2 linked regions of the Homo sapiens genome follow. The protein of the gene in region 1 purifies or fractionates together with the protein of each later gene. This does not show direct contact. Each region holds a gene or a part of one and is shown on either strand. Other genes may lie near its edges.

What was found. The genes of interacting proteins can lie anywhere in the genome.
Region 2: the proteins of TMED3 (region 1) and HS1BP3 purify together in Homo sapiens (affinity purification with mass spectrometry; 3 studies listed by BioGRID and IntAct, with this or other methods). This does not show direct contact.

Annotation. Positions count from the first base shown.
Region 1 is NC_000015.10:79,306,282-79,314,119, reverse strand, and holds the start of TMED3 (transmembrane emp24 domain-containing protein 3 isoform a precursor), read right to left. Parts: upstream 3,009-7,838; 5' UTR 2,871-3,008; coding exon 2,703-2,870; intron 364-2,702; coding exon 115-363; intron 1-114.
Region 2 is NC_000002.12:20,648,079-20,655,252, reverse strand, and holds the start of HS1BP3 (HCLS1-binding protein 3), read left to right. Parts: upstream 1-4,154; 5' UTR 4,155-4,189; coding exon 4,190-4,221; intron 4,222-7,174. UniProt on the Homo sapiens protein: May be a modulator of IL-2 signaling.

The DNA.
Region 1 (7,838 bases):
CTTCCAGACTGGGAGCTGGATGGATGATGACTCCCACCACCAGCCTAGACAGAGGCCAATGAAGAGGAACACGCTAGGGGGTTCAGCAGCCCCGAACTGCTAATGTTCACTCACCTGGGTGAGAGCTGTGACCCTGTTCCCCATGTCTGGGAGAATGGGAGGCTCATCGCCCACTTGAAAGTCAAAGTAGACGGTCTTGTGAGAGAAGGTGGAAAACTCATTACTGAAGCAAAACTGATAAACGCCCTTGACTTCAGCCCGGTACGTGAAGCTGTCGTACTGCTTCTTCGTTTCTCTGTAGATGGTGTTCCCCTGGGGGTCCTCTACATAGCAGTCAACATCGTAGTGGCCTCCAGTGATGACCTGACAACCATAAAAAAATTGCTGTTATCAAAGGAGCAACCACCACTTACCAAATGCCAACCAGACACTGTGATCAGACTCTACAAACATTTCTGTCACTTCATCTTCAAAACTTTCTAAGGCAGGTGCTACGCCACTTCTCATTTTACTAAGGCTGAGCAAGGTTAAATAAATTGGCTGTGGTCACACTGCTTGAAAGTGAAAGGGCTAAGATTTGAATCTATGCCTGCCTGACTCCCAAGTTTGCTCTGCAGGGTTTCAATGAGCCTAATCCTTTCCATTTTACAGAAGAAGAAACTGAGGTTCCAAGGTTAAGTAAATTCCCTAAGGTTACACAAGAGAAAGTGGTGAGATGAGATCTGCCTTGAGAGCTTTTGGTTCCAGTGCCTAAACATTTACCTATTGCACTATTCTGAAGCATGAATGAACATACCCCAGGATAACTGCTCTTCCTGAGATGGTGCTGATAAAGCTTCCCGAAATCAAGAGCAAGATGAGGAGGGATGTCCAAGAAACTATTCCAATGCAACTAGATGCCACCGATTCTTTATCTTTGTTCAATACTTAACACAAGACACACAGCAAATCACTGATTTAGGGCACTGCCACTCATTAGCCATGTGACCCTAGACAAGTTACTTTATTCTCTGAGGATATGTCTTTATCCATGAAGTGAGGAGTCAATAAGTTATCACACCTAAAGTGTTTAGCACGGTGTCCAACATAAATTTAGCAAGGGCCCCAAAAGTGCCAGCCAATTACTGGACAATCGTCAGACTGCAAACTAACCCCCTGGGGTTGCAGTGGAGATGTGGGATCTGATTTGGGGGCCACCCTAGAGCATGCATGCTGCACCTCCTGCTTCTCCGTTCCAATAACAGACAGGTGTTCCCCCTCCCCCCACCAGCAAGGGTCATTCTTGGCTTGCTGAATGGGTCAAGTAGCTATTAACAATATATTATTAATGACTGAATGCAAGGAGAAGAAAAATATTGATCGAAGTATTCATGGAATTTCTGAGTGTCAGCGGTGGAAGAGTCTTTGGGAATCATTTAGTTCAAACTCTCCTTGTAACATAAGAAAAATAAGACCCACATAAAGCAAAATCTCACAGGTAGGCAATGGCTATAACCAAGATCCATCAAAGGACACGGTCAATGGCCTCCATCTGCTTCCAAATTTAAATGGCCTCTTTGTCCGGACAAAAGTTACTAGTCCTGCTCAGCAAGCTTTGCAAAAAGCAGTGAGTATCCTGTTGCTAAGTGTGTTTAAACCCAGGCTGGACACACTTTGACAAGGGATTTCCGCCCTGGCAGTGACCAGATGACATCTGAGGTCCCTGCAACCACAGAATTATCATTCTTTTTGTCATTGCACCTAGGTTGCCCATGTTAACCCAGTCACAATTTGCATGTTGTCCACAAAGACCTGAAAGTGGACAAATCAGTGACTGAGACTACCACATAGAAGTTGTCTCCAAGCGCAAGCTTCCTTCAGTGCCTCTAACCACAGAGGAACTGGTCAAATAGCTTGCCCCCATTCCTGCTGCCCGTGGCCCCTCATTTCTGAAGTGCCTATCAGCATGCGTCCACAAGCAGATAGCTGTCTGAGTATGATGCCCACTTGGCCCCCAACCCTAGACCTGCTCACTAAATATCGGGGCAGACTACTCACTCAAGACCTGCTCCTGTCACCTGTGGGCCACGGGATCTCTCAAAGGAGACAGGAATACAGGAACTGAGCTTTTCTAAGCCATATGGCAAGAGCCAAGTCTTGCAGCCACACCGCTCCTTGTAAACACCGCCAGGCCTCAATGGCTGCACTGATCCCTCCTTTCCAAAGTGCCCATTCTCACTTCTGCTGCCCTCACCTCACTCCAACTTTAAACGCTGGAGAGGGGAGGAATAAACTAAAACTATGAGCCCACTTCCTCTTGCTGCCATTTTTCAGTACTCGAAGGCACAAGGTGGTCTAAGAGACTGGGGTTAGAGAGCCTGTGTCCAGCCGATCAGAACTGCCGTTGGTTAGTGTCTCGGGGGCCTGCGGATATCTCTTTGGCCAGCTCCCCAGGCTGCGGGATCCGCCCTGGCGTCCCCATCCCGGGCTCGCACCTGCGGCGCTGACTACCTCCTCGCTGGCCAGGCTCGTCTCGGGTGGGCCCTGATGACCCAAACCTTCCTCCTCACGGGGAAGTCAACTGGTCTCCGGGGACTCCCACCCCATGCAGCCTCCCTGTAGCCTGTGGCTAATTCGAGCGCCTCCAGTCAGGGGCTAGCCAGTGTCCAGGTGAGACCTGGGAGTGGAGGGAGAAGGGAGCGCTGCCGGGCGCCCGGCCTCACCTGGTAATCCAGGGAGAACTTCACGCCCTGCTCCACCTCCTCGTGGAAGCACTGCTTGGCGTTGTCCGGCAGCTCGAAGGTGAGCTCGGCCCCGCAGGGCTGCTCGGCCCGGCGCAGGAGCAGCAGCAGAAGCAGCACGGAGGCGGAGCGCGGGACAGTGCTGCCCATGATGCTCTCGGTCCCGTCTCGAGGGCCGCGGCTCGGGCGCTGCGCCCCCGGCGGGCTGGGGCGACGACTACCGACCGGGTCCTAGGAGGATGTAAGGGGATAGACGTGGCACCAGCGGAGCTCTGCGCTTCCGGGAGGGCCGGCGGCTCAGTGCGCAGCCGCGCGCTCAAAGTGGGCCCGGGCACCTTCCGCCCGCTGCGCGTGCGCGCTGGCCGCGCTGCGCCAGGGGACACGCCCCCCCCACCCCCCCGCAACGCCTCTCCCGGCTCGGAGGGTGGGTCTCCGCGGAGGGGAGGTGGGGCTCCACCTAGCGCGCCCCTACCCAGAAGAGGGAGAAGCCCTCCCCGCTGTTCTGCGCGCTCCCGGACCCGCAGGGCTGAGCATCCCCCCAGGTCGACCCAGGTCCACCCTCCAGCTGCTGCAGCACGAAGCACGTGGGATTTTACTCCCTCTATAAGGCTCCGCTTTTGACAGGCTCTGTAACTTCAGTCTCACACTTCCCTCGAGAACCAGTCTCCTTGTCTTGAAATGGGTGTGCCCAAACCTAACATCCACAGTAGTTAGGGAGCTAGGTGAAAGATAAGGGAACGCTGGGAACCCGATTAACACTCCTTTCTTCATTCCCATACCCTTCCCAAGGTGAAAGAGTGTGCGAAGGGGGTGGGGAGTGGGGAGAGTAAGTAAAGACCCATCATTACACCTGCTCTGGGAAAAACACGAGCGTGCTCACACACAAACGATCTCATGAAAATCCAAGTAAAGTCTCGCAGCGACTTCAGGTATATTTTGGCTGTCAGGCTCGTTGAAAATTCTTTTTGCACAAAACTGTCATTTTTGCACTTTGACTTCTTAAAAGCTCTGAAAGCAGATAAATTGGTTTACTGTCTTACCCATGACCACTGACTTAAGATTCTTTTGTATAATCGTAACTATAGGTATAGTTTTATATTCACTGTGATCCAATAAACAAAGAGAAAAGACGTAGATTGTGATGTCGATACTCAATAAATAACTTATTCAGGAGAGCATTACTAGACGTGGTATATCTTGACTTCAGGAAAGAATGTTACTGCCCATATAGATTTCCGCTGGCCACATTCACTATGGATGAACACGCTAATGTGTGAAAGCAATCTGTAGGCTTGGAAATAACATGCATGCATAACATAGTTAATAATATTGACTGGCTCAGTGACAGGCATGGAAGAGGTGTTTAGTAGTGTCCCTTAAGCTTCCTTCCCTGGCACGGTCCTATTTCACGTTTTTTTTTTTTTTAGGAACTGATAGAAAACATGGAAGTAATAATCATCTGATCTAGATGAACTAAGTGGAGAAATAAATGACAGATATAAAACCACAATTGGCCGGGAGTGGTGGCTCACGCCTGTAATCCCAGCACTTTGGGAGGCTGAGGCGGGTGGATCACGAGGTCAAGAGATCGAGATCATCCTGGCCAATGTGGTGAAACCCCTTCTCGACTAAAAATACAAAAATTAGCTGGGGGTGGTGGTGCGTGCCTGTAGTCCCAGCTACTCGGGAGGCTGAGGCAGGGAGGCAGGGGTATTGCTTGAACCTGGGAGGTGGAGTTTGCAACCTGGCGACAGAGCAAGACTGCGTCTCAAAAAAACAAAACAAACAAACAAAAAAAAAACACGATTGCCCTGGCACAGGTGGAGTGCTCTGCTAAGACTAACAAAAAGAAATTTCGGGCTGGGCACCATAGCTCATGCCTGTATCCCAGTATTTGGGGAGGCTGAGGCAGGAGGATTGTTTGAAGCCAGGAGTTCGAATCTAGCCTGGGCAACATAGTGAAACCTCGTTTCTACAAAAACAAACAAACAAAAATTAACCAGGCATGGTGGTGTGGGTCTGTAGTCCCAGCTACTTGGGATGCTGAGGTGGGAGGATTGCTTGACACCAGGTGTCTGAGGCTACAGTGAACTGTGATTGCACTACTGCACTCCAGCATGGATGACAAAGGGAGACCCCATCTCTAAAAATCAAAATAAATTCCTCCGGATTAAATGTTAAGTCTTACATTTAAGTTCCAAGAAAACACCTGCATAAGTTCAGGGGAGGAGCTGACATTGAAGAAGCTCTAGTCAGAGCATGCAGGCTGTTGGCTGGGACACCTCGGTTCTCCTCCAAGCATCCTCTTACATCTAATAGGCTAGATTACTTCCTTATATGGCAGGTTCAGGGCAGCATCCCAAGAGGAACTAGGCAGAAGGAGCAAGGCCCCTGAGACCTAAGCTTCAGACCTTTTCCAGTATGACTTTCTCCACATTCTGTTGACCAAAGCAAGTTCAAAGGCCAGCCCAGATTCAAGGAGGTGGAAAAATGGAATCTACCTCTGGATTTGAGGAGTTGCAAAGTCACATTGCAAAGGAGGGTCATACTGGGATGGAAGGAATTATGGCTGTTAAGCCATCTTCTATAGTATCCAGACTCACTCAGCTTGTCAATGGCTAAGCCAGAAAGTGAACCCAGATCTGCTTAATTCTGAAGACTACCAGCTTCCCACTAAACACACTGCCTCTACCCATACCTCAGGGAACACTTGTCCTACATGTTCCATAGGGCAAACCTTGGACCAAAGCATGAATCTGACACTGAGGCACATTTCAGCTCACACAATAAATGATTTTCTGGAACCAGAGATTTCCAAAAATAGAATGGACAAGGATAGTACATTTTTCATACCCGAAAATATTCGAACAGATGCAGGTGAACAACCAACCACTTAGCAACAACAGAGATGATTCATGAGCCTGGGTGACAGATAATAGTGGTGTATGACCTCTACGGTTCCTTCCAACCTTGATATTGCATGATATATGGCAAATATTGCGTGATATATGGTACTAAAGGTAGGATAACTTGAAAGAAAAACCAAAAATGTTTTCTATCCACTTTAGTCCTGGGGTGACTTCTGTAAAGTCCTTTTAAAACAGTAAATAAAAGAAACACACACATAAAAATAGTAAATAATAAATATTAAAACAGTAAATAAAAATGAGGATCTTAACAGATGCAGGAAAAAAAGCATGTGACAAATTCAACATCCATTCATGATAAAAACTCTTAGCAAAACAGAAATAATAGACAACTTCCTTAATGTCATAAAATGTAACAAATTTAGAGCAGACATCATGATTAATGATAAACATGTCTTTTCCTTCAAATTTGGGAATAAGACATAAATGCCTGCTATCACAACTGCTATTTAACATTGTCCCAGAAATTCTAGCAGGAAAGGTTAGGCAAGAAAAAGAAATAAAAGGACAAGAATTGGATATATAAACATCCAAATAGTGCTTATATCTAAGGGGAAGGAAAATGCAGAAGTCCAGAAGGGGCACCCAAGAGAGACTCATGAATGTTCACATTCTGACTTTCATTAACTGAACACTTAGGTTTTACTTCTCTAAGTATGTACAGATGCTCCTCGGCTTACAATGGGGTTATGTCTGAATAAACCTATCATGAATTGAAAACATCGTAAGTTACGTGTGTTATGATGAGATGGGCAGTATAAGGTGGACCCATCTGTGCCCTAAAGCAGAACTTTATCATTGCTTCATGCAACAGGAGCACTCCCTAGCATGCTATTAGTATGTTGAAACAAAATCAAAGTTTATCCATGCCTCATGCAGGTAATTGATGGTGAAGGAAAAAAGCAACACAATCGCTGTGTGGATTGACTAAAGCAAATGGAAACTTTGCAAACCGCTTAACGTTGCCATGGAGCTATAACCAATACCAGCTTTTCCCTGAACAAACCAGTCAGAGACAGGTGACACACACTGCCCTCCTGAGACTCACAAACTTCCCCAGAACAACTGTTTCTGTGGCTGTCAAGCATTTAACTATCCTTCCTATGGGTAAATCCCAAACTAGGTGAGAAACCAGCCTCCCTCTCATCACAGAGCAAAAGAGGGGCAGATAGTCCCTCTCCCTCTGCTCCCGGGTCCCAAGGTATGTGGGCATGGGATCCAGGCTCTGCCAACTGGGTGCCCTTGTATCTGACTCGGGGGGGCGGGTGTCTAGAGAGGTAGAAGCAGAGAGTATAATGGTGGTTACCAGGGGCTAGGGGGTGGGGGGCTTGGGGAAATGGCCAATGATTACAAAATTTCAGTTAGATAAGAGGAATAAATTCAAGAGATCTATTGTACAACATGGCATCTATGGTTAATAATGTAGTCTATACTTGAAAATCACTGAGAGTACCTTTTAAGTGTTCTTGCCACAAAAAAAATGATATATGCAGTAATATATATGTTAATTACCTCAATGTAGCCTTTCTACAATGTATGCATATTTTAAAACATTATGTTGTATACTTCAAATATACATAATTTTTATGTGAATTAAACAAACAAATTTAAATTTGAAAAAGAAGAAGAATGCTTCAATCTTTAAGCTTTGGACAGGAAAATATTGTGACTAAATGACTACAGAATGATCTTTAAAAATTGAAAAGCTTTTTGCAATTCACACATTATGTTGGATTCATGGAAATGACTCATATTCTCCCTTGAGTGTGAGGTAAAGAAACATTAATATCTTAAATATAGGAAGAGAATAATCCATGTGCCCACTCACCATGCATGAATTATATTTTCCTAGTGCTAAAAATTCAAACTTCTTCTTACCCCATTGGGTCTTTGTTTCTATATAAATAAGTATAATTTATTCTGCTTTTAAAAAGAGAAAAAGAAAAAAACATCATATAACTTATTATCTTTGCTGTAACATGGTGGAATGGAAAGATAATGAAATTCAAGACCCAAAACCCTGGCATTAATGTTTTGACATTCTGTCCTTGTCTGGGAGTCCACGTCTGAAACTTTAAAATAGAGGTTGAGGTTGGGGATTGGGTGAGTTGATGCCAAAGGTTTTCTTCTTCCAATTATCAAGACTTTTAATAATTTCAAACAGTGAGCTTGGGCTTCTTTTCTTCAATTT
Region 2 (7,174 bases), on another chromosome or scaffold:
ACCAGCTCCTCAGATACGCTCTGGTTCTATCAAGACGTACTAGGCTGAGCATGGTGGCTCACACCTGTAATCCTAGCACTTTGGGAGGCTCAGCAGGGCAGATTGCTCGAGCCCAGGAGTTCAAGGCCAGTCTGGGCAACATAGGGAAACCCTGTCTCTACAAAAAACACAAAAATTAGCTGGGCATGGTGGCACACACCTGTGATCCCAGCTACTTGGGAGGCTGAGGTGGGAGGATCACCTAAGCCCAAGGAGGTTGAGGCTACAGTGAGCTGTGATCATGCCACTGCGACAGAATGAGACCCTGTCTCAAAAAAAAAAAAAAAAAAAAAAAAAGACAAGCTGCCTTCCTAGTACACATTTTACCTCTTTTCTTCCTCCTCCTCAGTCATCCCTGCATCCCCTATGGAGCAGTTTTTATGTCAGGCATTATGTAAGTACTTTACAACTACACCAACAGGAAATCCACTGCAGAAAACCCCCACTTAGAGTGATTTAGGCATTTATGCAAGGAGAACTTTGTAGAAAAAGTCCAGGGCGTGTATGCAAGCTCATATGCCATCAGCTCCCCAGGCTTGTTCATCCCTAACATGGTAGACTCCAAACTCATGTCTGTGCCTCCTGCTCCCATGATGGCTGCTGTGTCTCCAACACTGTATCCCCTTCCCAGGTAGAAGACAAGGAAGGAGCGAAGAGTTTTCTCCTAGCAAGATAAATCCTCCACAGGGACTTAAGTATATGTGGTCAGTTATGTCACATGGCCCCTTGTAACTGAAATGGGACATGTGTTTTACTTCTCCAGCCTCTATGGTAATAAAAACCAGGAAGAAGGGGGTTGTGAATGGCTTCCGGTTAGCTCATCACCAATGCCTGCCATACATTTCATCTTGTTTCAGTCTCATTTTACCTCATGTAATTCAAGCAATGTTATGATTTAAAGGTTTCTGTTACGTGCATTTCACCAGTGAGAAAATCAAGTCTCAAAAAAATAATACCTACTTTTTACAACCCAGGTCTGCCATCACCTCCTCCTGGCAGAATTCTTTGTATGCCCAACCCTAGGCTGAGTTAGTTATGTGCCCTCCTCTGTGCACCATAGCACCCTAGGCGTGCATCCTTGTTGAAATCTCCAGCTGTCCTAGAGTGGCCTGTGAGCCCCTGCAGTGGGCTGTGAGCCCCACAGGATAAGGCTCTGTAGCCCCCAGGCCTGGGGAGATAACAGGCCTGGAGCTGTACCTATGAGTGTTTGCTGAGTGACAAGCAAGGTGGTGGCCCTGCTCCATGTGGATGTGCCCAGACCCTGGAGCTCTAAAGTATCACATTAGGGAACAGAGACAAATTATAAGGTCCCAGAAGACCCGAGCCACCATGGGAAACGTTGGTGCATGGCTCAGCCAGAGTTCAGAGCACCCCCTGCAGGCTGCGGGTGTCTCTCAGTGACCACAGTGTCCTGAGGCCCAGTGACTTCCTGGGTGGAAACTGAGGCCTGGAGTGTTCCTCCCAGGGCAGTGAGAAAGAGAGAAATAGAAAATCCTTTGCAATGTGGTTTGTGTTACCGCAGCTTCAGCCATGGAAGGGGCTCCTTGAATTAAACAGGAAGCAGAAAATATCAGATTTAGATCCCACATTCCATGCATTGTATACAATTACGCGCTGGAGCCATAGAGGGGCACGTGGGACCCACAGAGGCAGAAAATGGGATTGCTGTTGGGAATGGGGTCGTTCTTTCATGGGAAACCAGTTGCATTCTTGACAGGTGGGCCGAGTCTTCCTGAGGTGCACACTTCACAACCCCAGGGGCACAGGTGAGGCCCTCTCATTTGCTTACAAGGCATTGGTGACAGACATGCTACCAGCTCCCACAATGATGGAGAGTCCCCTTCTCTGCAGCCCCCCAACACCGCTGCATATCTCTGGATTGTAGACCATCCTTGGTGGGCTCACCCCAACTCTCAGGCTCAACAGCCTCCTTTTTACCCATGACTCCTATGTCAGTCTCCAGCCCAGGTCGGCTTCCTGAGGCCCAGGGCCATAAACCCAATCGCATCAATAGGTCCAGCCCTTCAAACACTGCCTGTCTGAAACAGAACCCATCATCCTACCAAAAATATGCTCCTTCTCCAGGTGCCCTGCCACAGAGAATGATACCAATGTCCAGCCACTCACAAGAGCCAAACCATAGTGGTATCTTATCTCTTCCCGCCCACACCCATTGGATTCCCAAGTCTTGACCAACTCCTTCTCCTAAGGCCCTCTTACCCGTCCCCTCTTCTCCACCTGGGTGGCCATCACCCTAGTTCATGGGACCATTGTCTCTTGTCTGGATTGTTCTGCAGTCCAGCTCATCTTCATACCTTCAACATGCTCCAAAACCCTGCCCACGCCCTAGCTGGCCCAGCCACTCCTATGTCCCTGACCCTCTGATGGCGCTGTGTTGGCCTCAGGATCAGGCAAAGCCCTGGCCTTGGTGCACTAGGCTGTCCACACCCTGGCTCCTGCTGGCCTCTTCCCCCTGTTCCCTGGTGTTCCTATCCTGTCGCTAGGGCTTTGCACGTGACATTCCTTCTAATCTATTCTATCCATATTTCTTCAGGTTTTCCCTTGGACTTCAGCTCCTTTAGAAAGCCTTTCCAGACCCCCACCCACTCCCCATGTAGGAGGGCAAAGAAGTCCACTGAAGGCATCTAAAGTGTCTTATTCACTGTGTTTCTGTCTGTTGGATAAATGTGAGTGCAATGGTGACTGCTCGACTGCCTGGCACTACACTCAGACTCCTGGAATGCTGAAGCCTATACTGCTTTCTGTCCAGACCCTGAACTCCCTTTCTCTAAAGTAGGGCATGCCAATTTAAACAAAACACGGAGGACCATTTGCAGCCATGAACACGGCCCTGCAGACGGACAGGCCGATGAGCAGCAGAGCAGACAGGGGTTCCCGCCATCATCCCAGCTCTTCACTGCAGCCTTCAAGGGTCTCCCTCAGAACTTTCATTCATTGTCATACTTCATTCATGATTGCTCATCTTGCCTATAAACAAATCTGAGACAAATAATAAGGCATATCAATGTCCGTATTTATTCAAGAGATACATTGGGGAAAGTCATTTTTCAAAATCTTTTACTGTAGGATTTCTTCACTAAAATCTGTAAAAACTGGTAGATATTGTTGGTGATGCTGGTGGCGGTGGTTGATAGGCTCAGGAAACATGGCTGACATCGCCCTGCCGTGAATTCTGGTATAGTTAAGCCCAGCTTCTCTTTCTTTTTGTCACTGGGGCTCTGGGTGGAGGGAGTAACAGAACAGGGGCAGCAGTTTGCACCTTCTGCTGGCCCTGTTTGCAGACTCAGCTTTTCTTTCCCTGGGCTACGTTGGCAGGTGATACGATCTCTCTGTTCCTCACCCCATGGAGAGGTGAATCTAAAATGAGTGGGTCTGTTAGGGTCTGCATGTCTGTACGTTCCCCTTCTGAGGGGAACTGGCTCCTGGACCCCGTTGCCCTGCTCCAGCTGGGGACCCAAGTGCAGCCATCCCAGGCAGGCCCGGCCCCGGGAGGCCTCCACCAGGGCTCTGCCAAGCAGCAGAGGCTGCCTCTCTAAAGATCCCCTGTCGGGAGAGTGCCTGCCATTTATGGAGCGGGCAGGCAGTAGGAACCAGATAGGCGAGCTAGCTGGAGGCAGCAAGCTCAAGGGGACTGGGCTGCTGCGTGGCGTTCACTGTGCAGCTTGAAGAAGACCCCACGAAGCCTGGACAGAGCCCCAGCTTGGTAAATATTTGTTGACCGATCGGTTGAATGAAATGGTCTTGGGGCAGAGGGGGAGTGGTTTTGTAATGGGGACTGGCGGCGGAAACAGCAGAGTCCCGTCTCTCTAACGGCTAAACTTTAGCGCAAAACAGACACACCGATTAAGGTTCACCGTGTGCCAGGGCCAGGCTGGGCTTCTTCTAGGTGGTTGCGGCGGGCGCGGCTCAGCCTGGGTGCTCCGGAAGCTCCGAGCAGCGCAGGCCGACGGCGACCGTGCGGGACCCGCCCAGCCGCGCTTCCGCCCCGCCTCTGGCCACAGGCGCGAACTGCGCGGCCGCTGCCACCAGGGGGCAGGCCAGGGCAGCGGGAGGCAGGGCGGGGACGCGGTGACGCGGGCACTGCCGGGTCCCGTGACTGCGCGCCCCGCCCGGAGTCCCCGCCGCCGTCATGCAGTCCCCGGCGGTGCTCGTCACCTCCAGGTGAGCCAGACCCCCGCGCCCCACACCGCACAGCTCGCAGTCCGGGGCGCCCGGGCGGAGAGGCGGGGGGAGGCCGCCGCCTCCTAGGCCAGGGACCTGGTGCAGGTCTCCCCAGCGCCCTCGGTGGCTTATCCGGGCTGGGCCCCTGCACCGCCCTGCAGGAGAGGTGGCGACCCCGATTTACAGATGAGGAAACCGAGGCCCTCTGGAGGGTAGAGAACTAGCCAAGGACAGCGGGAGCCCTGGGACTGACTGGTTCAGTGCAGGCGGGCGCAGTGGGGACTCTGCTCTCCTTTCCTACCGCCTTGGGTTCTTCTCTTTTGAGCCCGAAAATCTAGTTCCCCATCCTTTCAGAGCTCCCTGAGTCCCAGGCCCGGTGCTGGGCACTGGGGACAGAGGCGAATCAGACAAGCTCGCCCTGCAGGGGGCTGCAGCGGAGAGGGGGTGATGCCAGCAGCGGGTAGTAAGCTCAGGTTGCCATGGGAACACAGTACAGGGCAGGAACCCGGTTTCTGGGAGGATGAGTTTGATGAGAGACCAGGGAGAGGTCGTTGCTGCTTGCGAGGCAGCTCAGGAGAGCGCAAGTTACAGCAAAAGCCTTGGAGGGGTCCAGGCGGAGGATGCAGAATGGGTCGGCCCTGATCGAGACCTGGAGGACCCAGCCCAAGGTGGATCCTGGCAAGGCTGGGAGGCACGTGCTTTTACTTCTTTCCGCCTTTAAAACGCTGTAAAGTGATTTACTTCAAATATTTTCATACACTTCACCCTTGCTCTCCCTACACAAAGTCTTAGGCTAAGATGCCAATTTATGACATAAATGAACGTGTTACCCAGCCAACTGTTGATCTTCCAGTTGTAATCAGGAATTCCCCGTGACTTCAGGTCTAGAAAGGTATGATTCCTTTTGTAAACCCTGATGTCGGAGGCTGCTTGGTCTTTCATGATCAAGTGTGGTTACAGTTGTATCTTCATGGGCAGAAGAGGTTTCCCTACTGCCACTTACGTCACCTCCTCTCACCAAGCCTCAGTTTCCTTTTCTGTGAATTGGAGGTTTCAGATTGGCAGGCATGAGCAACGTCAGTAGTATATGCCCCTCAGCCATGTGCAGATGGATGGGGTGTGACTTTGGTGCTGGGTGCTTGGGATGGGGTGGGTGGCTTCCCTCCCTGCCCCGCTGCACAGCCTGGACGTGGCTTGTTAACAGATGTGGGGGCGCTGGCGGTGGTAAGGCCACATGAGTCAGGCTCATTTCTTGCTGAGGGCACCAGCACACCCAAGGATCTTGCCTGCAGGGTGAGTCCAAACGCCTTAGCCCAGCAGCAAGGCCGGCCCTTCCCAGTCGCACCCCAGCTCCTCTTTCCAGCCCGATCTCCTCCCACATGTCATTGCCACATGCACTCAAGCTTGAATTCAGCCAGAAGGTGTTTATCGAGAGCCTTCTCTGTACCGGGTACTGGCCCTAGTTCTAGGAGACAAACAAGTCCCTCTCGTAGAGCTTTAATGAGGGCACAGGCCCAGTGGGCAAATCTACGACATGTCAGGGATGATACATGCTATGAAGGAAAACAAAACAGTGGGGGCAACAGAGTGGTAGGAGGCATGCATGCTGTTTTCTATGGTGTGGTAAAGAGGCATCTTTCTGATGGAGTGGCGCCTGGACAGATCCCGGACAAGCTCCATGAGGGAGAGAGCCATGAAAAAGAAATCTTGGAAAAGTGTGTACTGGGAGGACAGGACAGCAGGAGCCAGGGTCCCGAGGCTGGTATGCTGGAGTGGAGTGAGCCCAGGGAGAGTGTTAGGTGATGCGGTGAAGAGGCAAGCTTGGGAGTGAAGGATGATCAGGAAAGGCCGAGAAGGCTGTGGAGGGGCCATCAGATTTAATTTCAAGTGCAATAGGGCCCAACTTCTGGTTTATAGAGATCCTTTGGCTGCTATGCTGAGCATGGGCAGTGGCCGAGCTGAGCATTCAGGACAGGCTTGTAGGTTTCCATGTAGAGCCGGTGGTGGCTTGGCCCGGGGTGATGGCGGCCGTGAGGGTGAGAAATGTTTGGGTTCTCGATATATTTTGAAGATTGAGCTTTCAGGTTTGCTGATGCTTGGATATGGGGTGTGAGAACAAGAAGAGAAGTTAAGACTAACGGCAAGTCTCTCAGCCTAAGCTGCTGGAAGAATGAGGCTGCCCTTTAGCAGGCTTGGGGAGAGGTAGAAGCAGCATTTGTGTAGACAGGTGAGTTTTGAGAAGCTCGTTGACAGCCCAGTGGGGATGTCAGGCAGCTGCAGCTGGAAGGAGGCTGGCTGTGAGGGGAGAGTGAGCTAAAGATGGGAGTTGGGGAGCCATTGGCTCGGAAATGGTATTTAAAGCCTGGAGCCTGGATGAGATCACCTGGGGAGGGGTACAGTGAGAGGAAGAAGGAGGGTGCTCTGGATGCTATCAAGGGGAACCATCCAAAGCAGTTCCTCTCCTCCTGTTTGAGCAAGAGTGGCCAGGGTGGGCAGAGAAGAACCAAGAGTGAGGGGGTGCTCCAGCCACCAGTGAAGGCAGAGCTTGAAGGAGGGGAGTGGCTGACTGTGCCCACTGCTGCTGACAAGTCAGACCAGAGGAGAAATGAGGATTCACCTTTGGATTTAACCACATGGAGGTCGCAGATGACCTGGGCGTGGGCAGTTTGTTGCATGATGAGGACCAAAGTCTGGCTGGAAAGGGTTCAAGATCAAACAGGAGGAGAGGAACCCATGAATATGGGGCCCTCTGTTGAGGAGTTCTGCTGGAAAGGGCAGGAGGGAAACGGAGCAAGGGGAATGTCGGGTCAAAGCACAGCTTTTGTTACATGAGTGGTCAGAGCATGGTTGCATGCTAATAAGCGTGGGCCAGTAAGGAAGGAAAATCGATGGTGCGAAAAAGAGGGGTGAGCTGCAGCAGCTATGTCCTTCAGTAGGTGGGAGGGCCTCGGAG